Linked DNA regions of Homo sapiens. The protein of the gene in region 1 interacts with the protein of each later gene in a pairwise test. Each region holds a gene or a part of one and is shown in the gene's direction. Other genes may lie near its edges. The genes, in order: DR1, AUNIP, RPP25 and TACO1.

The links.
Region 2: the proteins of DR1 (region 1) and AUNIP interact in binary tests that used the Homo sapiens proteins (3 or more experiments, as listed by UniProt).
Region 3: the proteins of DR1 (region 1) and RPP25 interact in binary tests that used the Homo sapiens proteins (3 or more experiments, as listed by UniProt).
Region 4: the proteins of DR1 (region 1) and TACO1 interact in binary tests that used the Homo sapiens proteins (3 or more experiments, as listed by UniProt).

Annotation. Positions count from the first base shown.
Region 1 is NC_000001.11:93,362,624-93,370,315, forward strand, and holds the end of DR1 (protein Dr1), read left to right. Parts: 3' UTR 1-6,870; downstream 6,871-7,692. UniProt on the Homo sapiens protein: The association of the DR1/DRAP1 heterodimer with TBP results in a functional repression of both activated and basal transcription of class II genes.
Region 2 is NC_000001.11:25,856,128-25,864,416, reverse strand, and holds the start of AUNIP (aurora kinase A- and ninein-interacting protein), read left to right. Parts: upstream 1-4,959; 5' UTR 4,960-5,059; coding exon 5,060-5,137; intron 5,138-8,289. Other genes in the region: PAQR7 (membrane progestin receptor alpha), read left to right, coding at 578-1,618. UniProt on the Homo sapiens protein: DNA-binding protein that accumulates at DNA double-strand breaks (DSBs) following DNA damage and promotes DNA resection and homologous recombination.
Region 3 is NC_000015.10:74,953,729-74,961,523, reverse strand, and holds RPP25 (ribonuclease P protein subunit p25), read left to right. Parts: upstream 1-4,751; 5' UTR 4,752-4,940; coding exon 4,941-5,540; 3' UTR 5,541-7,106; downstream 7,107-7,795. UniProt on the Homo sapiens protein: Component of ribonuclease P, a ribonucleoprotein complex that generates mature tRNA molecules by cleaving their 5'-ends. Also a component of the MRP ribonuclease complex, which cleaves pre-rRNA sequences.
Region 4 is NC_000017.11:63,596,333-63,604,252, forward strand, and holds the start of TACO1 (translational activator of cytochrome c oxidase 1), read left to right. Parts: upstream 1-4,562; 5' UTR 4,563-4,751; coding exon 4,752-5,031; intron 5,032-7,920. UniProt on the Homo sapiens protein: Acts as a translational activator of mitochondrially-encoded cytochrome c oxidase 1.

The DNA of each region.
Region 1 (7,692 bases):
TTTCTATTATTACCATTTTTACTATTTTCAAGAATCTTAGGCCCAAAAGACATTTTGGTCATTTGGTATGTAGTACCTGCCTTTTGTTTTTGTTTACTGTTATTTCAAAAAATGTGGTTTTACTTGTATTTTTATAATTTACAGTCCTAAGATCGAGGCATAACAAAGCTTACTTATGCAATATTTTATTTTTAGGTTTTTTCTTTTTTTTTTTTTTTTTTTTTTTTTTTTAGCATTTAAGAGTCACTATTATGTTTTGCCAGTTAAAATTTTTTAAATCTTTTGAAGAGAGAAACAAAATCTTCAGCGTTCTTGAGAAATAAAATTATTGTTCAGTAAGTATTTTTCCATCCCCTTGAATATATGTTATATATTCTTTTTCGGCAGATTATCAGATTAGTAAGTGTTTAAAAGGCATCAGTTTTTAAAACTGCATATACCACACACACACAAAACAGTACACAAATAAAGGTTTTCACAAATTAAACAAACTCACATACTAGTCTTCAGATCAAAACACAGAGCATTATGTGTACCCCAGAAGCCCTCCTCTTTCCCCATCTTAACACTGTCTTCTTTCTTGCTGAAAGTTACTATCCTGACTTCTAAAATCATAGATTAGTTTTGCCTGTTTTTTATTTTATGTAAATGTAATCATACATAATACACTTTTTTTCATTCATCATTTTTGTGAATATTTTAGTTTCTTGTTGCCACTGTAACAAACTACCACAAACTTAGTGACTTAAAACAACACAGATTTATTCTTTTATAGTCCTGGAGATCAGAAGTCCAAAAATCAGTTTCATTAGGCCTAAATCAAAGTATCAGCAGGGTTGGCTCTTTATTGAGGTTGTGAGGGAGAATGTTTTCTTCCCTTTTTTGGCTTCCAGTGACGGCCTGTATTTATGGGCTTGTGACCCCTTCCTCTCTATGATCAAAGCTTGCTTTTGTCATTATATCATCTTCTCTTCTGTAGTCAGATCTTTCCCTGCCTCTAAGTTTAGGGCTCACCTGCATAAAGCAGGGATAATCCCCCTATCTCAAGATCCTTAATTTAATCACATCTGCAGAATCTCTTTTGCCATATAAGTGACATTCACAGGTTCCAGGGATTCATACGCTGGCTATCTTTGGAGGCCGTTATTCAACCTGCCAAAGTGAGATCCATTCTTATTGTTGCATGTATTTGTAGTTCATTCATTCTCATTGCTGTATAGTCTTCCGTTTGTTTATCCATTTTTCATTACATCCAAAAGTTATTCATTCTCCCATTAATAGTCTTTTGAGAATTTTTCAATTCTGAGCTATTATGAATAGTACTGTGTAGAACATTCTTATACATGTCTTTTGGTGAGTGTATACATTTCCATTGAGTATAAACCTAAGAATGGAATTGCCAGGTTGTAGGGTGTGTATATTTTCAGTTTTAGTATTTACTGTCAAACAGTTTTCCAAAGTGACTGTAAGAAGGCACCATTTTAATGTGTAGCATAAAAATGAATTACGCTAATGATCTTAGTGGGTTGAATTTCTCGAAACACCTAAATTGTACCAAATGAGTTATATTGCAGCAGGTATGTTGTTAATTTCATATAACAGGAAAATAAGAGCAAAAGTAATTGCCCTTATTAACTGACACATTAGTATTACATACTCATTAGGTTATTGCTCCTTAGAAAAAATGCAAATTTTAAGTAATCGTAAGTAGTATGTTGAATTAGTATGTTGTGGGAAAATCTGTGATTTAATTTTTTAATTGAATTTTAAATTTTGGGTTATAACCTCATTAAAATGCATGATATTTCCTTATATAGGTTTCTAAATTATGTCTGTCCAACTCATCTATATCCAAATGGCCATTAGGAAGAATTATCCAATTCAGATGGCATAGGCACTGCCTTCCAATTTCTTCATTTGTATTTTTTTGTTGCTGTTTTCTTTTTTGCCTCTGTCCCCAACAATTTGACCACAAGTCCTACCCCACCTCCTCTGTTTTTCACCATCCCCCAGGATATAAAGTGTCATGGTTAGGATCGGCCAGGGTGAAGAGAATGATAACATAAGTAGCCTCCTTTCACCTAAAGTATTACCACTGGTTCTTATCCTATTTCCTCAAAATAAATGAGAAGAGAAAGTAAGGAATAAGAGGAAGAAACTTTTTTTTTTTTTTTAAAGAAACAGGGTCTCACTATGTTTCCTTTTTCTTTTTTCTTTTCTTTTCTTTCTTTTTTTTTTTTTTTTTTTTGAGACAGAGTCTTGCTCTGTCACCCAGGCTGGAATGCAGTGGCGCGATCTCGGCTCACTGCAAGCTCCGCCTCCCGGGTTCACGCCATTCTCCTGCCTCAGCCTCCTGAGTAGCTGGGACTACAGGTGCCCGCTAGCACGCCCAGCTAATTTTTTTTGTTTTTTTTTAGTAGAGACAGGGTTTCACCGTGTTAGCCAGGATGGTCTCGATCTCCTGACCTCGTGATCCACCCGCCTTGGCCTCCCAAAGTGCTGGGATTACAGGCGTGAGCCACTGCGCCCGGCCTATGTTTCTTAATATAGATTGCAGTGGCTAGATTACAGTGACTATTCACAGGCATAATCATAATGCACCATAGCCTCAAACTCCTGGGCTCAAGCAATCCAAAAGGAGGAAACTTTTAACTTATGATCAGTTTCTACCATAAATCAAGCAACTTAGAAAAACCTTAGAACAGGGTTTCTCAAACCAAGCATTGTTAGTATTTGGGGTTGGTTAAGTCTTTGTTTGTGGGAGCCTATCCTGTGCATTGTAGGATTTCTAGCAGCATAATTGGCTTATGCCCACTTGATGTCATTAGCACCACTCCCCACCCTACTTCCAGTTGTGACAACCCAAAAATGTCTCCAGACATAGCCAACTGTCCCTGGGTGTTGCGAGTATAGGAGGCAAAATTGCACCCTGTTGAAAACCACCACCTTAGATCATCTAGGTTTTACTTTTAGGATAAGACACTTGAGGGAAAGGCTGTGAAACTGAACCTCTGTTAGAAGCAACACACAGTATCACTGCAAAAAGACTAAAAGAAATAGGTGATTTGGAAAGAGGAGGCCCAGGATTAAAATATGTTTCCAAGAAAGTCAAATCTTACAGGAGACTCTTGACTTCACATCTGCTGATCCCTTTACCCGATAGGACCTAGAGCAGCCATTATAAATCTCTGTACCTGCTTGCTGCTTTTCTACCTCATTGTTAGCCACACCCAGTTTGAAACAGATGAGGTATGCTATTTCATAACTAGTACATCTTTTAATAAGCATTTTTTATTGTGATTAAATATGCATATCGTAAAATTCACCACTTTAACCAGTTTTAAGTGTTCAATTCTGTGGCATTAAGTATATTCATACTATTGTGCAACCACCACCACCATCCGTCTACAGAACTCTTCATCTTCCCAAACTGAAATTATGTATTCATTAAACAATAACCACCCATTACCTCCTCTCTCCTCAGCCTCTGGTAACCAGCATTCAGTCTCTATGAATTGACTACTCTGGATATCTAAATGGATTCATTCTTATTTCATTTACCATAATGTCTTCAAAGTTCATTCATGTTGTAGCATGTATTAGAATTTCTTTCCTCTTAAAGGCCAAATATGCCGTAGTATGTAAATACCGTATTTTGTTTATCAGTTCATCCATTAATGGACACTGGGTTGCTTCTGCTTTTTGGCTATTGTGAATAATGCTTCTGTGAACGTGGGTATACAAATAACTGTTTGAGTCCTAATAGGCTTGTTATTTTTGAGTGCACAGATCTGTATATTCGCAATTGAAATAGGGAAAGTCTTTATATTCATATAAAGATAATTTATAATACAATAAGTCCTCAATGTTGTTGATAGGTTCTGGGAAACTGCGAGTTTAAGAAAAACAACATATAATGAAATCAATTTTACCATAGGTGAACTGATATAAATAAGAGTTAAGTCCCTATGGCATATATTTCTGGTTACAAAAACACTACCAAATTTCTAATAAAGACCCAAAACACTTCTAAAATTAAACATTGAGATTAATATGAGCTTTATATACATTTAAAAAGGATAAAAACAAGTAAGAATTGGCTGGACATGGTGGCTTACGCCTGTAATCTCAACACTGGGAAGTCGAGGTGGGCAGATGGCTTGACCTCAGGAGTTCGGAACCAGCCTGGGTAATATGGTGAAACCCGTCTCTACAGAAAAATTCAAAAATTAGCCAGAGGTGGTGGCTTGCACCTGTAGTCCCAGCTACTCGGGAGCCTGATGTGGGAGGATCCCTTGAGCCTGGGAGGTCGAGGCTGCAGTGAGCCATGATCACGCTACTGCACTCCAGTCTGGGCAACAGAGCAAAATCCTATCTCAAAAAAAATATATATATTATCCAGCCCCAAATGTTTATGGGGTTGTTATTGATAAACCCTGCATTAAACAATCCCACAGTCGGTGCTGCGGTGAGCCGTGATGGTACCACTGCATTCCAGCCTGGGTGACAGAATGAGACCCTGTCTCAAAAAAAAAAAAAAAAAGTAAAAATTATTTACCCAATATTTGGCGAATCAGTGAGTGACAGCAGTTGTAGTGCTAGTGGGTTAAATCAAGGAATAACTGTTGGGAAGTGAAAATTTTAAGGAGCACCTCCTACCACCATGCAGTTCAAAAACAAAAAATAAGAAATAAAGTGGGCTTGCTGAGTGCTTTCATACTGCATCATTTATTGTGCATTTGTATGATTATTATATACTTTACAAATTTTCGTTTTACAGTAATTTGTATTCATTCGTTTTTCAACCTGCTTATTTCAGTTCAGTGTCTTGGGTAGCTGGAGCCTATCCCAGCAGCTCAGGGAGCAAAGTGGGAGCCAACCCTGGACAGGATGCCTTTTCATCACAGGGCGCACTCACACGGCACACACACGCATACTGGGACCATTTAGCTGTACCAATTCACCTAACGTGCATCTTTGGGAATTGAGAAGAAACCAGAATACCCAGAGAAAACTCATGCAGATATGTGGAGGACATGCAAAATTCACACAGACAGTGGCCCTGGTTGTAAATAATTGTTTTTCATCAATGTTATAATGAAATTACAGGCCGGGTGTGGTGGCTTACGCCTGTAATCCCAGCACTTTGGGAGGCCGAGGCGGGTGGATCACGAGGTCAGGAGATAGAGACCATCCCGGCCAACATAGTGAAACCTCATCTGTGCTAAAATACAAAAAATTAGCCAGGCTTGGTGGTGTGCACCTGTAGTCCCAGCTACTTGGGAGGCTGAGGCAGGGGATTTCTTGAACCCAGAAGGCGGAGGTTGCAGTGAGTTGAGATCGCGACACTGCACTCCAGCCTGACAACAGAGCAAGACTTCGTCTCAAAAAAACAAACAAAAAAAGAAATTACATTAGTTGAGGACCTGCTGTATGTGATATGAACAATGAGGATCAACTCTTTTTGTAATAGTTTTTTTACATATGTTATTTCATTTGTTTATTTCCTCTGTGAGGGTAAGTATTGATAGTCCAGTCATAGACTGGTAACACAGGCACACCATTAAAAATAATAGACATACAGTATGCAGTATTTTGTTTTACTTATGAAACTCCGTATTTTATGTATGATGTATTGAGTATGAAGAATAGTACATACTGTTTCCTTTTAACTTTATGTTTCTTGCCTTTGTATATTTTATATGAATAGCACTTGTCACTAACATAGAAAGCAGTAGAGGTGGAAGAGGGAGACTTGCCAGAATAAGTTTTTAATGTGAATCAGAGATTTTTATTAGGAATTGGGAGTGGAAGGAGAGAGATAGTATTAGAAAGTATGTATGCAGCAAAGGATGGAGAAACTGTCCTTGTTGTTAAGGCATCTAAGGATGCTCCAATTACTGGGGAAAACATACCAGGCTCAAAATGGTCTGATTATGCAAATACCTTCTAATACGTTTGTTTCTTTTGTTGTGCCTATAAAAGATGCCATTAACTTCATATTTATGTCACTAATAAACTTCTAGAATCCATGTAGTAGGGTGTAGTAGTGTGGTTAAGCTATGAAGAACAATGGTATTTATTTCCAAAACACTTATTTGGTATATTACATAGGATAGAGTATGTTTTCTAAGCCAAATAGTGTTAGGTTTTCATGTGCAGTTGCCTTACACATATACTAGTAGCCCTTACAAAATTTCGTCTGTCTTTATTATAAACATGTTGTAAGTGAGGAAACTAAGATTCCAAGAAATTAAGTACTGTTGGCCCTCTGTGTCTGGGGGTTCCACATCTATAGATCGACCAACCATGGACTGATGGATTGAAAACATTTGGGGAAAAAACAAAAAATAACCCAACAATGAAATAGTATAAATTTTAAAAATAATATAACAATATTTATATATCATTTACATTATGTTAGATATTATAATCTAGAGATGATTAGCATCCTTGGATTTTGGATTTTGGTATCCTTGGGGTATCCTGGAACCAATCCCTGGCGGATACCAAGGGATGACTGTAATATAATAACATCTAACAAGTGAAGGATTTGAACCCCAATGTAAGTAATTATGAAAACTATTTTTCTTCCACTAGAACTTTTTTCCCCAAAAATACTCTGGAAATACTGGAACAAATACTAAAATAAATGACCTTTATTTGAAGATCTTTTAAAAAAATTATAAGCCTGCCTGAGGATAGCAAAATTGTGTGCTTTTGCAAGGTAATTGTAGAACTCATTCTAAGGAAGCAGAGGTAATGTCTGTTACTATTTTCAGCTCCCTTTTTCTGTCCACTGTTGTCTAAATGATTCACTCAGTGTTATGCAGAATATGAGAAGTTATTTTATAAAGTTGATTTGTGGTATAGGCTTTACATATGTCTTTTCTTTTGGTCAAAATACTAAAGAAAGCTTATAGAAAAAGTGACCTGGTGTCAGGTTTTAGTTTCATCCTTATCCAAATGTTGCAGAATTTTGGAATCTTTTGGAGTACACTTTCTCTTTAAAACAAGCCCATCACCTTTAGTATAGTGGTGAGTAAAAATAAAATAAAAACAAGGCCAAATTGCGTTTTTCTAAATTGCAAGTTCCCTGTTTTCCATATCCCAGTAACAAACCTACTGTTGTGCAAATAGGAAATAACATCTAGTAGCTACTTTAGCAATGGACGTGGCAAAATAAATAAATTAGTAGCTATGGCTCATTATTTAGGATTTAAATGAGCCATAACTACTATAAATGAAATTGAAGATCATGTTCTTAATTTGAAATTAAGGATCATGATCTCATTGGTACTGATGAGTCAGCAGCTATCAATATATAAGGATAACCCTTATATTTTAGGAATTATTTTAGGAGAAAGAACTATTTTAGGAATTATTTTACACAGAATTCTAATCATGCTGCCTTGGAGGTTAGGCAACTACCATTCCTCACTTTGTAGCTTTATTGATTCTCTTCTGAAGCTTGCAGTAGCCTCCTAACTTGCCTTGCTGCCAGTCCTTCCTTGTCCCAGTCTATCCTTCACATTGCCACCAGTGTTATTTTTCTGAAATACGAAAGCGAATATGAGGCTTCTCTGCTCCTTGGTGATAATAGTATAAAGTCCAAACTCTTAAGTATTACATAAAAAGTATGTTTCACAGCACACCTCAACTTTGTTTTCTATAATCTCTTAATCGTAATGA
Region 2 (8,289 bases), about 68 Mb from region 1:
GTGCAACAAGACTGGAGAGGGTAGCAGGGACCAGGTCATGCAGGGTAATGGAGGGTCAGTAGGGGACCCTGGCCACTCTTGAGGAGCTAGATAGGTAGAGGCAGTGGGTCTATTAGCAAGGTCATTATTGCCACCAGTTGAACACTAATGGTGGCATGAACACGGGCTGAGAGCGCCTCACCCCTCTCATGTGTTTCACATGGCCAGATCTGTTCTTTAGGAGAGAAAACAGCTGGTGCTGCTGTGTGGAGCCTGGGACCGGAAAGGAAATTAACAAGACAGGGAGCCTTATTAGTTAATACATTCCTCAAACATTTATTGAGCACCTACTATGTGTCAGGCACTGTTCTAGGTACCTGGAATACATCAGGGATCCTTGCTCTCATGAGGTCAGAGATGAGGAATTCCATAGGATGAGTCTTCTGTTCTTAAACCGAGTGTAAGGATAAGGCTGTCGGAGAGGAGGGAGTAGGATTTGGGCATCAGAGCCCCCCAGCTGCTGCTCGTGGGGGTGAGGACACCAGGCCCCTGACTTTGCTCTGGTCTCTCTCCCAGCTCCCTGCCCAGGCCCACAGCCATGGCCATGGCCCAGAAACTCAGCCACCTCCTGCCGAGTCTGCGGCAGGTCATCCAGGAGCCTCAGCTATCTCTGCAGCCAGAGCCTGTCTTCACGGTGGATCGAGCTGAGGTGCCGCCGCTCTTCTGGAAGCCGTACATCTATGCGGGCTACCGGCCGCTGCATCAGACCTGGCGCTTCTATTTCCGCACGCTGTTCCAGCAGCACAACGAGGCCGTGAATGTCTGGACCCACCTGCTGGCGGCCCTGGTACTGCTGCTGCGGCTGGCCCTCTTTGTGGAGACCGTGGACTTCTGGGGAGACCCACACGCCCTGCCCCTCTTCATCATTGTCCTTGCCTCTTTCACCTACCTCTCCTTCAGTGCCTTGGCTCACCTCCTGCAGGCCAAGTCTGAGTTCTGGCATTACAGCTTCTTCTTCCTGGACTATGTGGGGGTGGCCGTGTACCAGTTTGGCAGTGCCTTGGCACACTTCTACTATGCTATCGAGCCCGCCTGGCATGCCCAGGTGCAGGCTGTTTTTCTGCCCATGGCTGCCTTTCTCGCCTGGCTTTCCTGCATTGGCTCCTGCTATAACAAGTACATCCAGAAACCAGGCCTGCTGGGCCGCACATGCCAGGAGGTGCCCTCCGTCCTGGCCTACGCACTGGACATTAGTCCTGTGGTGCATCGTATCTTCGTGTCCTCCGACCCCACCACGGATGATCCAGCTCTTCTCTACCACAAGTGCCAGGTGGTCTTCTTTCTGCTGGCTGCTGCCTTCTTCTCTACCTTCATGCCCGAGCGCTGGTTCCCTGGCAGCTGCCATGTCTTCGGGCAGGGCCACCAACTTTTCCACATCTTCTTGGTGCTGTGCACGCTGGCTCAGCTGGAGGCTGTGGCACTGGACTATGAGGCCCGACGGCCCATCTATGAGCCTCTGCACACGCACTGGCCTCACAACTTTTCTGGCCTCTTCCTGCTCACGGTGGGCAGCAGCATCCTCACTGCATTCCTCCTGAGCCAGCTGGTACAGCGCAAACTTGATCAGAAGACCAAGTGAAGGGGGATGGCATCTGGTAGGGAGGGAGGTATAGTTGGGGGACAGGGGTCTGGGTTTGGCTCCAGGTGGGAACAAGGCCTGGTAAAGTTGTTTGTGTCTGGCCCACAGTGACTCTCTGTGCACGACTCAACTGCCAAGGGCATCACTGGCCAATTCTTGGATTTAGGGATTGGCTAGGAGTTGCTGGGGTCCACTCCTGGGCCTGCCCCAGCTCCTTGCCCAGGGAGAGGGAAAGAGTTAACGGTGTGGGCCACTCCAGCTTGCCCTTCCACTGCCACTCACTGGGGTGAGGCTGGGGGTCAGCTTGGTGAGGATTGGGGCTTCTAGATTGTCTAGGCAGGAGGTGAAACTTAGGCCAGAGTCAGATTTGAGCTGAGCCAGGGGAGGCCTTGGCAACCTACTTCTACTCAGATTTCATTGCTGGATGCGGAAGGGGTAGGCCCAAAATATATACAGGATCTTACTGTCCCTTGAAGCCCAGCCACAAGTGTTGGAGCTGCAGAGAGACCCCAAAGGTAGTAGATTGTGCCAGATACAAATGGGTCCCATCCAGTGCTTCATACTCCTTCAGTCACTATCCCAGACAGTGAGCCCCAGATCTCCTAGCTCTGGCTTCTGTGTCCCACACGGCCTGTTCCCAGCTTCTCTCCTGGTTCCCTTGTTACGGATTCATTTATCCATTCAGTGTTTCCTGGGCCTCTGCTCAGAGGCAGGTCACCACTGGGCCCTGTGGATCAATGCAAGATGACAAAGGCTTTTTTTTTTTTTTTTTTTTTTTTTTTTTTTGAGGAGTTTCGCTCTTGTTGGCTAGGCTGGAGTAAAATGGTGCGATCTCGGCTCACTGCACCTCCGCCTCCCAGGTTCAAGCGATTTTCCTGCCTCAGCCTCCCGAGTAGCTGGGGTTACAGGCATGCACCACCATGCCTGGCTAATTTTCTGTATTTTTAGTAGAGACGGGGTTTCTCCATGTTGGTCAGGCTGGTCTTGAACTCCTGACCTCAGGTGATCTGCCCGTCTCGGCCTCCCAAAGTGCTGGGATTACCGGCATGAGCCACTGCGCCTGGCCGACAAAGGCTTTGATATCAGAATGAACTGTCAAGGGAGGTGCTGGAGAGGGATTAACCTGTGCTGCCTGGGACCCTCAGGGTCTTAGGTTGGGGAGTGTGAATAGGAGTTTGCAGATGGAGAATAGGAAGGGCATTCCAGGCAGAGGGAAACCTGTGCAGAGACCAAGAGGTGTGGAAGGAAAAGTGGGGTTGGGGCTGGGTGGTCTGGATTATGGCCTGGATGCAATAAAGTACTGTGACAGTAGCCACCTCTTTGTTTTTTGTCTCCTGTTTCCGGGAGGGGCCCCTGCTCACATTACTGGAGGTTTTCCGGAGGAAGCTGGGGCCCCTGGGAGTGGACACAGGGTGCAGGGAGCAGTTCTTGTTTTATCTTTGCTGGGGGATGGGGTTGGGGCCTTATATACCATATCTATATATACAAAATTTGTTTGGCAAGGGAGTGGGCGGCAGTTTTATTACTAAAGTTTTATAAGTAGTTAAAATAATGTGTTTAAAATATGATAATCCCACTTTATGATCTGACAAAGACTTTTTTTGTTTGGTTTTTCCTTCAATTAAGGAGGGTTTTTTTGTTTTGTTTTTAGTGGAGGGGGCAGGGGCGTGCACACTCCACCACACATATTGAGCCTCGTCGCATGCGCACCGAAGAAGTATGTTAACTTTTATAATATTGCTTTTTCCATAGTACACAGCAATATATATACAATGAAGGAAAATTGGGAAGATAAGAAAACCCAAATTAATTAGAAATATCACTTCACTGCTGAAATATCATGGGGGACCTTATGAAATACACACACACACACACACACACACACACACACACACACACATAAAATATGTGTATATAAATAAATATTTTGATATAGGCCAGGCATGGTGACTCACGCTTGTAATCCCAGCACTTTGGGAGGCTGAGGCAGGCATATCACCTGAGGGCAGGAAGTTGAGACCAGTCTGGCCAACATGGCGAAAACCCATCTCTACTAAAAATACAAAAATTAGCCAGGCGTGGTGGCACACACCTGTAGTCCCAGCTACTTGGGAGGCTGAGGTGGCAGGATCGCTTGAGCCCAAGAGGTTGAGGCTGCAGTGAGCTGAGACTGTGCCACTGTACCCGAGCCTGGGTGACAAAGCGAGATGGCTCTGTCCACCATGAAGACAGGCTCTGGCTGCAGAGATGGTTGAGGTTCCTGGCTGACCTGCTGCAGACTGGGCAAGAGGTGGCTGAGCTTCTATCCTCCCTCCACCAAAAAAAAAAAATTACAAAATTTTTGGCCGGGCGCGGTGGCTCATGCCTGTAATCCCAGCACTTTGGGAGGCTGAGGCAGGCGTATCACGAGGTCAGGAGTTCGAGACCAGCCTGGCCAATGGTGAAACCCCGTCTCTACTAAAAATACAAAAATTAGCTGGGTGTGGTGGCGTGCGCCTGTACTTCCAGCTACTAGGGAGGCTGAGACAGAAGAACCGCTTGAACCCAGGAGGCGGGGCTGCAGTGAGCCGAGATAGCGCCACTGCACTCCAGCCTGGGCGACAGTGAGACTCCGTCTCAAAAAAAAATTTTTTTTACATATACAATATGTAAACATTACGTATAATGTACATATATTCCATCTATGGAGATTGTGGTTAGGGACGGAAGGATGGGTGGGGGTGCCAACATTTTTGCATTTCCAAGGGGTTTTCTGAATTCACAAAGTACTTTCACAACCTCATTTGATCCTCTTTAAAATCCAAGGCACAGTAAACGGTGAAAGCAGGACTGAAATCTAGTTCCTGACCCCAAATTTTAACCTCTTCAAAATCCTCTCCCATGTGGCTTCGTAGTTACGCTTACATTAAAAAAAAAAAATTACCAAAGTTGTTCGCACACTCGAGTGTCTGGTAACCACTTAGGTCGAGGACCCCTGGTCTGGAGTCGACGGGCCTGATCTCGGCTCAGCCACTTCCTTCTGGGGGTGATCGCGAAGATTCAGCGATGACACGAACAAATTCCTAAGCCCGGGAAATACTGTAAGAAATTTTCAATACAGCAAAAAGAAAATGTACATTTCTGAGGCTGTCGAGAACCGTTCACACAGCAGCTTCCGAATCCGCTCTTGAAAGAGCGGATCAGAAAGAACACGCACTCCTCCGCGCAGGGAAATATGCCGCACGCACTCAAGGGACCGGCCGCGAAAGTTAGTGCGTGGGCGGGGCACAGCGAAGGGGGCCAGGGCCTTGCCGGGGCGGGGCTGGCGCCCGGGGCGGTCGCGACGTAGCCCCGCCCCCAGCGTTGGCGCGAGATCCGAACGTCGGCGGCCGCGGTTCTGGCGTTCCCTGAGGCGCCGGGAGCCTGCGCCGGCGTCCTGCCGGCTTCGTCTCCTCAGCGGCCATGAGGCGGACAGGCCCCGAGGAGGAGGCCTGCGGCGTGTGGCTGGACGCGGCGGCGCTGAAGAGGCGGAAAGTGCAGGTGGGACGCTGGGGGATGAGAGGGCGTTGGGAACCAGGTAGGGCCTGGAGGCGTAAGACGGGAGGAGTTTGGGGGACACCTGGAGATGATGAAAGCGAAGTCGGGGACAGAGAAGGGAACAGCGTTGGGGATTCACAGGCGAGAGGGATTGTGGTCTGAAGAAGGTTGAAAAACGGGGCTTGGGGAGGATGGGAGGGACGGAAGGAAAGAGCGTGCTGTTGGGGGGTCTGGAGGAGCGGTGCGCAGGGAGGGGCGGCGAAGGTTCAGGTGTGGGAGAGGCGGAGGGAAAGTTCGCTCGGAGCAGTTGAACTGACCAGGCTCCCTAGGAGGCCACAGTCCCTGCGAGACGTCCTAGTAGAGGCTGGAGCATTGGGAGATGGATGCGAATGCAAATTGGGGAAATTCTCACCCCGGGGTCTGTTTCCACCCAATTTGCCAAGTTGCAGGCCAACTACCTGCCCAGAACCGGTAACTTTGAGGGGAAAAGTAGAAGCTATGGGAAGGGGAGCTGGCCTCCTATGTACTGAGCAGTCACTGGGTGCCGGATACTGCATTAGATACTGAATATGCGTTATATGTGTCGTCATTCTTGCTGGGAATGAGGAAACTGAGGTTCAGTAACTAACCTAGGCCCGCCTAACTAGAAGGAGCTGGAAATCACATTCAGGTCTGTCACCTAGGCAAGATGCTCTTCAGTCACTGTAAAGAAACAAAAGTGCGACATAATAATCATTCATGTTTATTGAGCATTTTATGCTGGTGCTAAGTGTTTTAGGTATGTTACCTTGTTTGGTACAATTCTATATGGTAGATAGTGTAATGATACCCATTTTACATACGGAAAACAGGCTCAAAACAGACACTAGGGGCAAGATTCTTGCTCTCAGGTTGCTCACAGTCTTATAGGGAAGAAAAGAGGTGTATAAATAATAACAACAATACCTAACCTTTATTGAGTGCTTTCTATGTGTCAGGCATTTTGCCGAGACTTTATACACTTTATCAATGGCAGGTACTCACCAAAATTCAGTAAAGTAGATTTTGTCATTATCCTGGTTTTATAGATAAGAAATTTGATCATTTTATTATTATTATTTATTATTATTATTTTTTGAGATGGAGTCTTGCTCTGTCGCCCAGGCTGGAGTGCAGTGACACAATCTCAGTTCCCTGCAAGCCCCACCTCCGGGGTTCACGCCATTCTCCTGCCTCAGCCTCCTGAGTAGCTGGGACTACAGGCGGCCACCACCACGCCCGGCTAATTTTTTGTATTTTTAGTAGAGACAGGTTTTCACCGTGTTAGCCAGGATGGTCTCGCTCTCCTGACCTCGTGATCTGCCCGCCTCAGCCTCCCAGAGTGCTGGGATTACAGGCGTGAGCCACTGCGCCCGGCATATTATTATTATTGTTATTTTTGAGATGGAGTTTCACTCTTGTTGCTCGTGCTGGAGTGCAGTGGCGCGATCTAAGCTCACTGCAACCTCTGCCTCCCGGGTTCAAGCGATTCTTCCGCCTCAGCCTCCCGAGTAGCTGGGACTACAGGCGCCCGCCACTACGCTCGGCTGATTTTTGTATTTTTAGTAGAGACAGGGTTTCACTATGTTGGCCAGGCTGGTCTTGAACTCCTGACCTCAAGTGATCCGCCCGTCTCGGCCTCCCAAAGTGCTGAGATTACAGGCTTGAGCTACCGTGCCTGGCCGATTGTTTTATTTTTTCAAAAATTATCAAAATGGCCGGGTGCGGTGGCTCACGCCTGTAATCCTAGTACTTTGGGAGGCCGAGGCGGGCGGATCACCTGAGGTCAGGAGTTCGAGACCGGCCTGGCCAACATGGTGAAACCCCGTCTCTCCTATAAAAAATACAAAAATTTGCTGGGCGTGGTGGCAGGTACCTGTAATCCCAGCTACTCGGGAGGCTGAGACAGGAGAATTGCTTGAACCCAGGAGGTGGAGGTTGCAGTGAGCCGAGATCGTGCCACTGCACTCCAGCCTGGGTGACAGAAGACTCAGTCTCAAAAAAAAAAAAAAAAAAATCAAAATGTGCAATAGCTATTTATTACTCCTTGAATTAGGAATAAGCCATTTGTACCCTTTGAATACATTCTTGAATGACATGGGATGCGTGGGAAACTTGTATACCACTTTGATTTGTTAGTTAATTTTGGAGACAGGCCTCAGTCCGTCACCCAGGCTAGAGTGCGGTGGCGTAATCACGACTACCTACAGCCTCAACGCCCCCGGGCTCCAGGTGATCCTCTTGCCTCATCCTCCCGAGTAGCTGGGACTACAGGCATAGTGCCACAAAGCCCAGCTCATTTTTTGTATTTTTTTTTTTTGTAGAGACGGGGTTTCGCTGTGTTACCTAGGCTGGTCTTGAACTCCTGAGCTCAAGTGATCTGCCCACCGTGGCTTCTCAAAGTGCTGGGATTACAGGTGTGAGCCACTGCACCCAGCCACCAGTTTAATTTAGAAAGAGAACAGAAATAGAATTAGGAAGAGTTCAGGAGAGCGAGAAAGGGAATATTCCACAGGGAAGAGGAGAGCCAATATTTGTCTCTCTGTCTATAATTCTGTTTTGTTGTTGTTGTTGTTGTTGTTGTTTTCCGAAATGGAGTCTTGCTCTTGTTGCCCGGGCTGGAGTGCAGTGGTGCGATCTCAGCTCACTGCAACCTCCACCTCCTGGGTTCAAGCAGTTCCCCTGCCTCAGTCTCCAGAGTAGCTGGGATTACAGGCATGCACCACCTTGCCCAGGTGAATTTGTATTTTTAGTAGAGACGGGGTTTCTCCATGTTGGTTAGGCTGGTCTTGAACTCCCAACCTGAGGTGATCCACCTGCCTCGGCCTCCTGGGATTACAGGCGTGAGCCACTACGCCCAGCCTAATCTTGTTTTATTGTTTGTTTTGTTTTTTTTTTTTTGAGATGGAGTCTTGCTCTGTCACCCAGGCTGGAGTGTAGTGGCATGATCTCGGGTCACTGCAGCCTCTGCCTCCCAGATTCAAGCGATTCTCTGCCTCAGCCTCATGAGTAGCTGGGATTACAGGCGTGTGCCACCATACCTGGCTAATTTTTGTATTTTTAGTAGAGACAGGGTTTCACCATGTTGACCAGGCTGGTCTCGAACTCCTGGCCTCAAGTGATCCACCTGCCTCAGC
Region 3 (7,795 bases), on another chromosome or scaffold:
TTTGTTTGTTTTGAGACAGTGTCTCGCTCTGTTGCCCAGGCTGGAATGCAGTGGTACAATCACAGCTTACTGCAGTCTAAACTTCCTGGAGCCACTGCACCTGGCCAAATGTTTGCTGTTTTAAGCTGCTGAGCTGTGGGGTAATTTTTATGCAGCAACAGATCACCAACACATCTTTTCCACTATGGAACACCCTCATCTCCCAAAGCTAACCCCTTTGGGCAGTTTGAGTCACTTAAAAGTTTATTTTTCTCATACATTCGGCTGAGATAGTAAAGGGAGTCAGAACTCTGAGTTCAAACATCTGTGGTTGCTTCTTTCTAGCTGTGGTACATAAGGCAAGTTATTTAACCTCTCTGGGTCTCAGTTTCACATCTGTCAAACAATGATGATACCTTCCTGGAAAGAAGAGTGTGGAGATTAAACACATCTGACCCAATGCTGGGCACTCGGTGGGTGCCTGCTAAATCTGAGTTCCCTCTGGCCCTGCTAATTTTCTTTTTTGTTGTTGTTGTTTTTGTTTTGTTTTGTTTTTGAGACGGAGTCTCGCTCTGTCGCCCAGGCTGGGGTGCAGTGGCACAATCTCGGCTCACTGTAAGCTCCGCCTCCCGGGTTCAGGCCATTCTCCTGCCTCAGCCTCCCGAGTAGCAGGGACTACAGGCGCCCACCACCACGCCCAGCTAATTTTTTGTATTTTTAGTAGAGACAGGGTTTCACTGTGTTAGCCAGGATGGTCTCGATCTCCTGACCTCGTGATCCGCCCGCCTCTGCCTCCCAAAGTGCTGGGATTACAGGAGTGAGCGACTGCGCCCGGCCTGGCCCTGCTAACTTTCTAATTCCTGACTCTACTTGCATGCTCCCAAGACCCTGCCCAAAGAGGCTGGGACTAGGATCAGGGGTTTTAAGAGCTCCTCATCCTCCTCCTGCAACAAGAGACAGAGGAGAGGGGCTGTACCAGCGATCCCCCTCCAGTGTGAACATGAGAGATTTGTCCACAGGAAGTAGGGTGTGCTGCTGGAAAGGTCCCAGGGAACCTTAACAGATATGTATTGGCTAGGCTTGGCCTCTAGCCCAGCTACCCCAACACCTCCTCCCAGGGTGAAAGGAGTCTAGCTTGCCACTCACCAGTTCACTGTGAGTGAAAACTGCTATTATTTCTGAGTCTTTCCCAATTTCTTTTCCTTTTCACCAGTTTTCTTTCCCCCAATCCCTTTACAATTTTTTTAAATTCACAAATAATATATGAAAAATAATAACAGCCAACATTTCCTGAGAACTTAGCAGCCAAGGTTCCAAGACGGCTGTGTCTCATAATCACTCTGTGAGGTAGATTACTATAATTAGCCCCATTTTACAGATGACAAAGCCAAAGCAAATGGGTTAAGTAAATTGTCCAAGGTCACACAGAGGCAGAAAGAAGCTAATAGAAGCTGAAGCTTCAGGGTCAGTAGCTCATTTATGCAAGCTGCTCCAAGACTCTGTATTCATATTTAATTGTCCTTTTCTTAAAGAAGGTAATGAAAACTTCATGCGGTAACAAGAGGTCAGTGTGCTGTTTTCTTGCAGATATTTTAAAAATACATTTACATCTATAAACACACACGGAAATAAATGCCCCCCTACTCTGTGTATGGCTGGCACCCAGCTCCTTTAACACAACGTCTTCACTGACTCCACTTTTCTAACCATTGTGTGGTGTGCACCACTGATGCTCTACTTTAAAATTTACCAGCCTTTCTGAAGTTGAGCCCTGTGCTCCCCTCCTCTGACTCTGGCCCCACCCTGGGGTTCCCACCCTCTTCTCAGCTTTTTCTCCCTTCGCCCTGTCCCCTACGCTGTTTCCCCCCTCATACAGCCCCTTTCCCTGTGTCCTCACTACTTCATGCCCCAATTCCTTCCTGCCTCTCGCGTTTCTCCTCTCTCCTCGCCACCCCGCCCCGTCCTTCACCGCCCACCCTGTTTTCCCCGCTCGCTGCCCGCTCTCTCCCACTCCAGCTTCCTCCAGGCCTGCCACATTACCCTAATTCACAGCACCCCATCCTTCCTCCCTCACTCCCCGCATCTCCCGCCCCCACCCCCTACACCCCTTCACGGCTAGGAGGGAGCGCACAGCCGGCGGGCTGCGACGCGCGCTGACAGTGTAATGAATGGCTTCAGCTGTAATTAGCGACCCCGCGGCTAATCACGATGTACATTTACATTTTAAGTGCTGCAGAGGGAGCGCGGGAAGGGGAGGGGACCGGCAGGAGGGAATGCGGCCCTTTTCGGCGTTCTCCCTTCACCGACTGTGGAGAGCAGTGAATGCGAGTCTTCTACATCCGACAGCAGTTTAGGAGGTTGGGGACGGCTGGGTCCTCGAGGGCCAACCTGGCCGGACGCAGAACCGCCCCGTCCTCGCCCTACACAAACCTGAAGCTCCCAGGACCCTTTCTCCAAATGACAGAACTCCGCCCAATCCCTTCCAAGTGATCGTGCAGCCCAAACTTGCATACTCCCGGGGACGGAGAGCTCGCTCCTTCCACAACCAGCCCGTTCCAACGTAACTTCCAGCCTTTCGGGGGCTTTTTCTCAGGGCCTGACCTTACACAGCCCTCGGTTCTCCACGCCCCGCTACGCGCTGCGGACAGTCTTTGTTTCTTCCCAAGGCTGCTGTGCCTCCAGCCCCCACCGCTGTGTGGGGCCCATGGAGACTGGACCGAGACCGAAGTCCCGGTTCGGAGCATACCCCGAGGGTTCCTGATCCCACCAGGAGACGGGGAGGGGGTCAGCCATTCACACATTGCGGTGCCAAGGTCCAGTCGCCGCAGCCACTCCCAGGAAGTGGTAAGAGGGTAAATCCCGGTTCTGAACAGCAGGGACCGAGGGCCGCTCCCAAGAAGTGACAAGGAAGTAAACCCTGGTTTTGAACAGCAGGGACTGAGAGCTGCTGCAGATGCCCAGAGGGCGAGAACAGCGGGAGGAGGGAGAACAGCATCTGGCAGCCCCATCTCCAACTGAGGCCCAGCAATCCAAGGCACTGTCATGCCCCCAGCACTTTCCCGGTGGCCCGCCCGCCCCAGCTCTCTGTGTCCCTCCCCGCCACGCCCCGTCACAGTCCCCTGGCTAGGACCAGATCTGCCGCCCTCTCTCAGTCCTGACTGCGTAGGGCGGGTGGAAGGAGGACGGGGGAATCCCGAGAGCAGTTTTAGGGAGGGTCGGGCCCCTTCTCAGACCCCCTCCCTTCCATCAGTAGTCCTGACAGCCCCCAATCTCATCTTTCTCTAATGCTTCTCTCACCCGGCAGGAGACCCCGGGCCTCTCTTTCGGTCCCGTGGAGTTTCCGCCGGAGAGGCATCCAGTAGTTCCATAATGCCCCCAGGGCTTCAACTCCCCATCTTCCTCCCTTCTTTCTCTCTTTTATTTTTTTTTAAGTCTTTTTAATTTTTGTGGGTATACAATAGGTGTCTATATTTAGAGGGTACATGAGACGTTTTGATACAGGCATGCAATGCATAATAATCACATCCTGGAGAATGGGGTATCCCTCCCTTCTCTTTTGTATTTTATTTAATTAATTAATTTATTCATTTTTCGAGACAGAGCTTTGCTCTGTCGCCCCGGCTGGAGTGCAGTGGCATGATCTCGGCTCACTGCAGCCTTCAGCTCCCGGGTTCAAGCGCTTGTCCTGCCTCAGCCTCCCGAGCAGCTAGGATTACAGGAGCGTGCCACAACGCCGAGCTGATTTTTGTACGTTTAATGGAGACGGGGTTTCACCATGTTGACCAGGCTGGTCTCGAACTCCTGACGTCAAGTAATCCGCCCACCTCTGCCTCCCAAAGTGCTGGGATTAAAAGCGTGAGACACCGCGCCCGGCCCCTCCCTTCTCTTTTTTAAAACCTGCGTTCACCTAGCCTCCTTTCGAAAAGGACCCCACTGGATCTCAAGGGGCCAATGTTGCCTGAGCGAATTCCGCCTGGGAGGAAGGGGGCGGCCACGTTGGCAAGGCATCGTGCCTGGCTCACCCTAAAGCGCGCAGCTCTAAGGGTGGGCTCTAGGGCCTGGGTGGAGCGAGCCTACCGCCTTTTCAGAAGAGGTCACGCCCGCTTCCCCACGCGCCTCGGGGAACAGCCTGGCCCAAAGCCTCACTCCTCACGTCCCAGGGGTGGACGGGGGTCCGGGAGCCTCGAGCTCCGGGCAGGCGTGGCGAGGCTGAAGTCTGGGTCTTCCGCGCCCCGCGAGGACCACGCCGCGACGTAATCGCCCGCGGGGAGGCGCGGAGTGGAGCCGCAGCCAGCTCCTCCCGCACTCTGCTGACCGCGCACTAGCTGTCCTTGAGGCAAGAATACTTGGGAGCGGAAAAAAGGTGGGGGTGTTCCCCGGGGCGGGGGAGGAGGGGCAAGGCCCCAGCAAGCCTCTTGGAAATCTCTCCCTGGGAGGGGACGAGGGGCGGCCTTCAGTTGCAAATGGGAAGGGCTCGGATACCGGATTTGAAGCAGTGTTTGCACGGCAAGCGCAGCTTTTATTTAGACTGCCGGTTTGTGAGGGTTGGCTCTCAGAGCGCTGATGGCGATTATAGTGGAACTTCACCTTCACCTGCTCATGCGCCCCGCAGCGCGCCCGCTCCCACGCCCGCGTAGCTGAGGACCCAGACTCGCCAGGAAAGGCTAGTGAGGCTGGGGCCCGGGCGGGCCCGGCCGGGCCGGGTCAGGGGAGGGGCCTGGCGGCAGGGGCGGGGCCTCAGCTAAAGGCGCGGAGCACCCGGCGCCGAGAGCGCTGAGTAGAGCGGCGCCCGCTCGAGAGAAGTGGGGCCGAGATCGCGCCGTCCCAGCCCGCCCGCCGGCGTCTGCGCTGCTCCGGCGCCCTTACCCCTGCTGGCCCTTGCAAGGCGCGACCGGCGGCCATGCAGCCCCGGGGCTGAGGCCGCCCCATGGCAAAGCCGGCGGTCCCGGCGACGACGGCGCATGGAGAACTTCCGTAAGGTGCGCTCCGAAGAGGCGCCAGCGGGGTGCGGGGCCGAGGGAGGCGGCCCGGGCTCCGGCCCCTTCGCAGACCTGGCGCCGGGCGCGGTGCACATGCGGGTCAAGGAAGGCAGCAAGATCCGGAACCTGATGGCCTTCGCCACCGCCAGCATGGCGCAGCCAGCCACGCGCGCCATCGTCTTCAGCGGCTGCGGCCGGGCCACCACCAAAACCGTCACGTGCGCCGAGATCCTCAAGCGCCGCCTGGCGGGCCTGCACCAGGTCACGCGGCTGCGCTACCGGAGCGTACGCGAGGTGTGGCAGAGCCTCCCGCCTGGGCCCACGCAGGGTCAGACGCCTGGCGAGCCGGCCGCTAGTCTCAGCGTACTTAAGAACGTGCCCGGCCTCGCCATCCTACTTTCCAAGGACGCGCTGGATCCGCGACAGCCCGGCTACCAGCCCCCGAATCCCCATCCTGGTCCCTCGTCCCCGCCAGCCGCGCCAGCGTCCAAGAGGAGCCTAGGGGAACCCGCAGCTGGAGAAGGCTCCGCGAAGCGATCGCAACCCGAGCCAGGGGTTGCGGACGAGGATCAGACGGCCTGAAACTCCGGACTGTGGGCCACCTAGTCCGGCAGGATCTTCCGCCAGCGCCTCCACCTTCAGATGTACCTCCAGCCTTTCACTCCTCGGTCCTCCGGAGCCCACAACCTGGACACAGCTCCTCAAGACAGGTAGCATGGACCTTAAGGCGACAAGAGAGGGGCCCCAGGAGTGGCAGGAGAGGATCCCCGACCACCCTAGGGAAACTTCGTGCGATAATTGCTGCTTATGCCCGTGTTGCGTGAAGACACGGAACTTCACCTTTTCTGGGACCTTCTTTGGGGGAGAATGGTGGACAGTGGGATTCTGGAAACTTGTTTGGGACCCCCAAGGGTTAAAGCCACCCAGCATTCACGAAGAGCACCTGAAGTATGGAAGCTGAGAAGAGTTATTGGAATCACCCCCACCGTTGACAGAGGAAGGCAGGGGGTGAGAATTAACTGCTTGAGGGTAGGAGAGTCTGAGATGTGGGGGCCCTATTCCGCTCCCCGCCCTGGGACAGTTTTCCTTTCTAGTTTTCTTTCCCCTGCTTCAGAGGAGCATCTCTGAGGGTTCTAGCTCTTTTAACACCCCTTTTCCCCCTGCTGGCCCAGAGGGAGACCCAGGACTGAACTCTCCAGGCCTCCTCCCCTGAGCCCTGCAGCTGGCTGGAGTCTTGCTTCCAATAAAACAAGCACAAAAATGGCTGTGTCCCCCATTTTTTTTCTAACCACCCGCCTGTGCAGAGACAGCTCTCGCCTGGCCCCTTGTGTCTCCCCTCCCCTCCAGCCTTGCGTCCTGAGTCTTTGGAGTCTTCAGGGTCAGGCACAGAGACTGAACAGCTTCAAAATGGTGCAAGGCACTGCCCAGTCCCTGGCTTCTTCCTCTCTCCTCCCCCACTCCGCCCTCCCGGGCTGGCCCTGGCCTCAGAGGCTGTTGCAAATGGGGGCCCGTGTACCCCTGTACATCGCCACTAAGGGAAAGGGAGCGGCACATTGTTTTTCTGGGAGGGGAAGGAAGGAGTGGAAGGACAGCATCGATGAACTCTCCTGGAGGTCACTGCAAAGGGTGGCAGACCCTGCTGAGGTCCCTGAATCTGCAGCCTCCAGACAATAAACTGAACCTTACCCAGAAGGCTGGCACAAAGCCCCCAGCTCTGTGGGTAGGATCTCCCCTTCACTGCCCTCTCTCTGAGAAAGGACAGCACACCCTTGGGAAAGGGGGAGGAGAGAGACTGAGCACAAATCCACTGCTGGAAATTACTATTCAGCAGAGAAGCTGGGTCTTGGGCTGTGAATCACTGCAGGCCTCCTGATAAGCTGCTGCCTCCAGCCCTGCACAGCTGTCTGTTGAGAGATAACAGCCTCATAAGCTTCTCTGCCCAACTCCAAGCCAGCTGGGGGGTGGGGGTGCTGCTGTGTGCTGGAAGAGCTCTGGTGAGTTGGGGGTGGCATACAGCCCCAGGATCTCAGAAGCAGATCTCATCCCATGCAACTCAGCAGCACCCCTGGAAAGGGGGAGATGCGGAAGAATGTATTTATAAGTCATTTTGCTGGCAGAACCCTGAAATAAATCCTGCTGGTGACAAGAGATACGTTCTGTGGCTGACTGGAGGGGCTCTTAGGGAGGTTTCCCTCCCCTGCAGTATCTCTGCTTGAGCTTTGGAGTGAGCTTTGTCATCCAGACTTTGTCCCTCGTTGCTCTCCCCAAATTCCTGCTCTTGATGAGTCCCTGGAGAGGGCCAAGGGGTTTGGGTTTGCTTGTCTGACCCTCTCAGGGGTGGCCCAAGAAGCATGGAAAGAATGTAAACTGTCCTGACAAGATGGCCTAGCTTCTCCTGGACTTCAGCATCTAAAGGCAGTGATAAAACTTGGACAAGGTCCTGCATGGTAGAAGCTTAAGGGAGACTGGTCTTGGTTCTGAAAAGGGTCCAACTTTCCAAGACAACAAGTGACTGATAGCCGGGTTACCAGGACTATGAAAGCAGGGCCTGAGGCCGGGCATGGTGGTTCATGCCTGTAATCCTGTAATCCCAGCACTTTGGGGGGCCAAGGCGGGCAAATCACGAGGTCAGGAGCTTGAGACCAGCCTGGCCAACATGGTGAAACCCCGTCTCCACTAAAAATACAAAAATTAGTCAGGCATGGTGGCGGGCGCCTGTAATCCCAGCTACTCAGGAGGCTGAGGCAGGAGAATCGCTTGAACCTGGGAGGCGGAGGTTGCAGTGAGCCGAGATTGCATCACTGCACTCCAGCCTGGGCGACAGTGTGAGACTCCGT
Region 4 (7,920 bases), on another chromosome or scaffold:
CACCTCGGCCTCCCAAAGTGCTGGGATTACAGGCGTGAGCCACCGTGCCTGGCAGAGAATTTAAGTTTTATGAGTACCTGCTGGTCCTTTGGAACTGTGCTGCTATATGGTCTGACAATGTATATTTTGTGAGAAACACATGAGTCCTGCTCTCTGGTTTTTAAGGAGAAAACAGAGAGTAATACTATTTATAGGCTAGCCTATGCTGCGGCAACAAACCCCCAAATCTCAGAAACTGAGCACTACAAAAGCTTATTTTTTGCTTACACAAAGTCCTCTGGGCCGGGTGCAGTGGCTCAACTCTCTAATCCCAGCACTTTGGAAGGCTGAGGGGGGAGGGAGGGGCAGATAGCTTGAGGTCAGGAGTTCGAGACCAGCCTGGCCAACATGGTGAAACCCTATCTCTACTAAAAATACAAAAATTAGCTAGGCATGGTGGCACACGCCTGTTGTCCCAGCTACTTGGGAAGCTGAGGCAGGAGAATAGCTTGAACCCGGGAGGTGGAGGTTGCAGTGAGCCAAGATCGCACCACTGCACTTCAGCCTGGGCAACAGAGCAAGACTCCATCTCAAAAAATAAAAATAAACGTGTGACCTCCAGGTTGCTTATGGGGGGTGGGAGGGAGTACATTTTTCAGGATGGGCCGGGAAGTGGCTTACTCACTTTTGCTCCTATCTGCCAACTGCAAGGAAGGTCAAGTCAAGAAATGTAGTCTTCCTGTGTACCCTGGAAAAGGAAGTGAAGTAGTGAATAATTATGTCTCAGCCATACTAGCAAATCGGCTAAGTATCTGGACTAATAACTAATGTAATCTCATTCATTGAGAGCTGTTAGTACTGGACAACACATGGTCAAACCTAATGGAATGATATTTGTAGCCAGTCTTTAGCTTCCAAGGCTCATTGTTACTTAAGTGATTTCAGTGAGCCTGACAGCCAGGCGTCTAGAGATGGTTCAGTCAACTATGAATTTATCTTGAAAGGTGGCTATTAACTCAGACTGAGAGTTAAAATCTGCCCTGCCATTCATCACAGATGCACAGACAGATAAAACCAGCTGCACAGTTAACAGGATATAGTACCTCTATCAAGAACACACTGCAATTTTTTTTTCTTTTTTTGGCAACATAAAGTGTCAAAACTCCCTGAGTGACTACTGTTTTAAAAAAATTCACTGAGAAATTTCGTTCTCCAAAATCATAGGCTGACAAAGTTTGCTGTTTGCAATTGTATTTGTGAGAATTAAGGCTTATAGTCAGTCTTGCTTGGAGGAGCTGAGTCACTCTGACAGAGAAGCAGCCTTGATTTCCAGGCCAGGTATTGTGCTTCAGAGCAGGGGCTTCTGAACACAACAGTCCACATTTACCTTGACTTTGTACTTTCCAGGGAAACTGATCCCCTGGGTCCACTTGGTAGTCCAGCTGATCTTAATCCGCCTTTCACACAGGTCTGTGTTTCTTTGAGCCTAACTCTAATTTTTCACCTAACTTCCACCCTTCCCCATAATTCTATGACCAGTTTTTTCTTCGGTAAGACACTTCACCATTCCTCTGGTGTGCAGTCTCCCTTGTTGCAGTGAGTTGATAAGCCTAACTCTGTGAGACTATAGGTTTCCCTTGCTGGTCTCAGGCTGACTGGACTAGGGCAGTCTCAAACCTTGTTTTAGCCTCTACACTTATTTGTGATTACAAATTCCATTAATTTGATTTTTGCTTCTCAAAGTAAATATTACATATATATTTTTTTCTTTTTTTTTGAGATGGAGTCTCGCTCTGTCACCAAGGCTCAAGTGCAGTGGCGCGATCTCGGCTCACTGCAACCTCCGCCTCCTGGGTTCAAGCGATTCTCCTGCCTCAGCCTCCTGAGTAGCTGGGACTACAGGCGCGTGCCACCACACCTAGCTAATTTTTTGTATTATTAGTAGAGACGGGGTTTCACCGTGTTAGCCAAGATGGTCTCGATCTCCTGACCTCATTATCTGCCCCAAATCGGCCTTCCAAAGTGCTGGGATTACAGGTGTGAGCCACCATGCCTGGCCTGAATAAACTATTTTTAAATTGCAAAAAGTAATACTATATATGAATGGCTGATAAGCACATGAAAAGATGCTTACCATTAGTAGTCATTCAGGAAATACAATCAAAACCACAATGAGATAATACTTCTCACCCACAAGGATGGTGATAACTATAGTCAAAAAGAATAACAAATTTAGCCAGTGGCTCACACCTGTAATCTCATCTACTTGGGAGACTGAGATGGGAAGATCACTTGAGCCCAGGAGTTCTATGCTGCAGTCAGCTATGATTGCTCCACTGGACTCTAGCCTGGGTAACAAAGCAAAAAAAAAAAAAAAAAATTCATGATATGGAGAAATTAAACCCTCATATATTGCTGGTGGGAATGTAAAATGATACAACCACTTTAGAAGACAGTCTGGCAATCCCACAAAAGGTTAAACATAGTTATGATATGACCCAGCAATTCCACTCCTAGGTATATAACTAAAAGAAGTGAAAACATAGGTCCACACAGCAATGTGTACATGAATGTTCACAGCCTCATTATTCATCATAGAAGGTGGAAACAACCACATGTCCATTGCCTGATGAACAGATAAATAAAACGTGGTATATTCATACAATGGAATATTATTTGGCAATAGAAATGAAATACTGATACATGCTACAACATGCAAGAATCCTGAAAACATCATGCTAAGTGAAAGAAGCCAGTTACCAAAGGCCACATAGTGTGTGGGCCCATTCATATTAAATGTCCAGAAGAGGCAAACCCACAGAGACAGAAGTAAATTGGTGATTGCCTAGGGCTGTGGGAATTGGGGGGAAATAGGGAATGATTGCTAATGGGTACAGGACTTCTTTTGGGGATGATGAAAATGTAAAATCAATTGTGCACAGCTCTGAATATTCTATAACACATTGTACACTTTGAATTGGTGATCTGTGTGATCTGTGAAATATGTCAAAACTTAATTTTTTAAAAAATGAGAACTGTGTTGGGCATAGGAAGTACAGTCCTACTCTCAGAGAATTTAGTATTACGGTAGAAACAGATATAAACATTTTGATATTTTTTTAAAAGGTAAGTGCTAAGGTGCAAGCATGTATGAAGGGCTATGGGCACCCACCGCACCTGGCTAATTTTTGTATTTTTAGTAGAGACGGGGTTTCACCATGTTGACCAGGCTGGTCTTGAACTCCTGACCTCAAGTGATCTGCCAGCCTCGGCCTCCCAAAGTGCTAGGATTACAGGCGTGAGCCACCGCACCCAGCCCCATGGAGGTTCTTATATAATAAAAAATAAAAAATCTATGCTTTTGTGCTTTGCATCCATTATCCCATTTAGTCCTCACAAGGCCATTCTATGGTAAGGAAACTGAAACAGGAAAGTAAAGGAACTTGCCCAAGGATACACTAGAAAATGGAACAACCAGGGTTTGAAGCCACCCAGTCTAACTGCAGAGGGCACAAACTTGGACTTCACACTGTCCTGCTTCTCTCTCTCTCTCTCTCTCTTTTTTTTTTTTTTTTTTGAGTTGGATTCTCGCTCTGTCGCACAGGCTGGAGTGCAGTGGCGCGATCTCGGCTCACTGCAACCTCCTCTTCCCGGGTTCAAGCGATTCTCCTGCCTCATCCTTCTGAGTAGCTGGCATTACAGGCGCGCGCCACCACGGCCGGCTAATTTTTTTGTATTTTTAGTAGAGACGGGGTTTCACCATGTTGGTCAGACTGGTCTGGCACTCCTGACCTAGCGATCCGTCTGCCTCAGCCTCCCAAAGTGCTGGGATTACAGGCGTGAGCCACCGCGCCCGGCTGTCCTGCTTCTCTACCTGATATGTCATGCCCTTTGGACTTAATCTCACCAGCATGGGAGTCACTACAAAGCTTTTCAGCAGCTGCCGCTTTGTTTCTCTCCATCTTCTAACGGATTCGGTTTTCTCTTTCGAGACAGCAGAGAGAAAATGAAGAGGGGAGTTTAGCTCCAAAGGGCTTGTCTGATCATTCTCCCTCTCCCAAAGGCCTGTGACTCATCTGAGTCTGTCCCAAACCATCTCTTGCATCTAGGGGCTTAAGTGCACTGTGGCTATTTACATAAAACTTTATTACTTTAAAGCTCTAAGGGCTCATTTTGTGTTTCTAACTTTCCTATGTTGATAAAGCAAATATTAGATCCTTATTTATAAATAGGGAAGACGTTCAGAGAGATTAAACATTTGGGCAATTCACTTCTCTGGCAGCAGTTTCTTTCCCAGTACAATGAGGCAACAACAAAATATCATTCTGGACTTGCTCAGATTTAGGCAGCAATTTGGAAGCAAAGTCAGTTTCATAACTCAGATGTGTCTCCACTAAAACATTATGAGAAACAAAGTCCGGCGCTCTCTAGGCAACCGTGAGGGCTTGAGCACTAACTAGATCTGCTCAAGGGCAAGAGAGGAGCGAGTACCGTGCAGCCACGGAACGGACTTTGCGGGCAGTGGGGACGTGTTTTTGGAGCGAACCCGGTAAAGGAAGTGTGCTACGCCATCAAGGGCCCCCAGTCCCGGGTGCCGCGGGGACAGTGTAGGGTCATTAGCTGTTGAGCCGCCCCGGGCGGGCCCAAGCCTTTGGATCTCAGGTGACCGGCACAGGCGGCCGCGGGGTCCGGAACTGCTTGTTCCGGCAGTGGAAGAGACGCGCCGGCGTTGGCCGCTGCTGCTAGCAGCTTGAACCCCAGGGTCGGGACCGATGTCGGCTTGGGCTGCTGCCAGCCTAAGCAGGGCCGCTGCCCGATGCTTGCTGGCACGAGGCCCCGGGGTCAGGGCGGCTCCTCCGCGCGACCCCCGGCCCTCCCACCCCGAGCCCCGGGGCTGCGGTGCCGCTCCGGGCAGGACGCTGCACTTTACCGCGGCTGTCCCCGCCGGGCACAACAAGTGGTCCAAAGTCAGGCACATCAAGGGTCCGAAGGACGTCGAAAGGAGTCGCATCTTCTCCAAACTCTGTTTGAACATCCGCCTGGCAGTGAAAGGTGAGACCCTGACGGTCACCCAGCACTGGCTGCCGCTGCCCTCTCAGTGCCCGCAGCCTCGCTTGCCTCTCGGAATTGGGCCCACCTAGATCTCCGGCCCTTCACTTTGTTTTCCTTCCCCAGTACCCACCATTGCCCACCTCATAAATCCTCAAAACACCTACCCTACGTTGGAGGTTCTCACTCACTTTTCCAGACGCTGAGCATCTGGCCAGTTTGTCAGAGAGGGAGCTGCTCTTAAGAAGATAAGCCGGTAAGGTAGAAGTGACTTCATCCTAATCTAGCTGGGTACTTAATAGAAACAAGCCCTAAGAGTCAGGGCAGATGTGTGTCTCTCCTGAAGAGACAAATCAACCCCTCTGAAGTCGCCTCAAGTACCTTATTGGTTGTGGCAGGGGCACTGAGTAAAGCTATTACTTAAGTGCTTAGGCCTTAGCTTAGGCCTTAGTTTGCTTCATTAATGTTTCCCCAAGACACATTTCCTTGGAAGGTAGATTTGCAGCCATGTCTTTTCTCCCTTAGGTCGCCACACTGAAAAGGCTTTTTTTCTGTTTAGGGCCAGACATCTGTAGGAGCAAAGGAAAAGTCCTGTAGAAAGCATGGACTTTGGACTGGGCGCAGTGGCACAGCCTGTAATCCCAGGCCAGAGGCAGGCAGATCACTTGAGGTCAGGAGTTCAGGACTAGCCTGGCCAACATGGGGAAACCCTGTGTCTACTAAAAATAACAAAAAAAAAAAAAAAAAAAAACAGCTGGGCATGGTGGTGCATGCCTGTAATGCTGGCTACTCGGGAGGCTGAAGCAGGAGAATTGCTTGAACCCAGGAGTTGAAGGCTGCAGTAAGCGAGATTGCTCTACTGTACTCCATCCAGCCTGGGTGACAGAGCAAGACTCCATCTCAAAAAAAAAAAAAAAAAAAGAGAGAGAAACTGTGGACTTTGGAGTCAGGAAGACTGGTTTCTGTCACTGACTAACCTTGAACAAGTAGCTTAACTTGAGTTTCTCTGAAACAAGGATAATACCCACCTTGAGGTAGTTTATGGTTTATGGCACATCATAGGCATTCAGTTAATGTTAATTTACCCCCTCAGCTCATGCCTGGTATTTGTTTGCTTCCTTTTCTTCAAAATTCTTGATATTAAGTTCAAGCAACTTTTATTTATTTATTTATTTATTTATTTTGAGACAGAGTCTCACTCTGTCACCCAGGGTAGAGTGCAGTGGCGTGATCTTGGCCCATTGCAACCTCCACCTCCCAGGCTCAAGTGATTCTCCTGCTTTAGCCTCCGGAGTAGCTGGGACTACAAGTGTGCACCACCATGCCTGGCTAAATTTTTTTGTATTTTTAATAGAGACAGGGTTTCACCATGTTGGCCAGGCTGGTCTCGAACTCCTGACCTCAAATGATCTACCCACCTCCACCTCCCAAAGTGCTGGGATTGCAGGTATCAGCCACTGCATCCCAATGAAGTTCAACCAACTTGTGTTTATTTTGTGCCAGGCATGCCATTGGTACTAGAAAGATGATGAGATACAGCCCCTACCCTCAGATCACAATGTCATGTGAACATTTCAATAATTATGCACAAAGTGCTGGGCACGGTGGCTCACACCTGTAATCTCAACACTTTGGGAGGCTGAGGCCGGCGGATCACGAGGTCAGATCGAGACCATCCTGGCTAACACGGTGAAACCCCGTCTCTACTAAAAATACAAAAAAATTAGCCAGGCGTGGTGGTGGCGGGCGCCTATAGTCCCAGCTACTCAGGAGGCTGAGGCAGGAGAATGGCGTGAACCCAGAAGGCGGCGCTTGCAGTGAGCCGAGATTACACCACTGCACTCCAGCCTGGGCAACAGAGGAAAACTCTGTCTCAAAAAATAATAATAAAAATAAAATAAAATAAAAATAATTATTATGCACAAAGTAGTAGAGTAAGAGCAGTAATGAGTCCAGGAAGTGTTGTTACCATCTATAACCCTTCTTCATCTGACACAAAGTAGAGATCGCTGAAACCTAGCAGAATGAAAACCATCCCTAAAGACAATGAATTAGAAAGTTCTGGCCAGGCACGGTGCCTCATGCCTGTAACCCCAGCACTTTGGAAGGCCAAGGTGAGTGGATCACTTGAGGTCAGGAGTTCGAGACCAACCTGGCCAACGTGGTGAAACCTCATCTCTACTAAAAATACAAAAATTAGCTGGGCATGGTGGCAGACACCTGTAATCCCAGCTACTTAGGAGGCTGAGGCAGGAGAATCCCTTGAACCCGGGAGTGGGAGGTTGCATTGAGCCAAGATGAGCCAAGATCATGCCACTGCACTCCAGCATGGATGACAGAGTGAGACTCTGTCTCAAAAAAAAGGTCTTTTCTGGCCAGACATGGTGGCCCACACCTGTAATCCCGGCACTTTGGGAGGCCGAGTCAGGCAGATCACTTGAGCTCAGGAGTTTGAGACCAGCCTGGGCGACATGGTGAAAACCTGAATCTACAAAAAATACGAAAAAAATTACCTGGGTGTGGTGGTGCACACCAGTGGTCCCAGCTACTTGGGAGGCTGAGGCAGGAGGATCGCTTGAACCCTGGAGGTTGAGGCTACAGTGAGCTAAAATCATGCCACTGCACTCCAGCCTGGGTGACAAAGTGAGACTTTGTCTCAAAAAAAAAAAAAGTACTTTTCCAAAATACTTATCCAGGCCAGGGGCAGTGGCTCACACTTGTAATCCCAGCACTTTCGGAGGCCAAGGTGTGTGGATCACCTGAGGTCAGGAGTTCGAGACCAGCCTGGCCAACATGGCGAAACCTGGTCTCTACTAAAAATACAAAAATTAGCCGGGTGTGGTGGTGTGCACCTGTAATCCCAGCTACTCAGGAGGCTGAGGCAGGAGAATC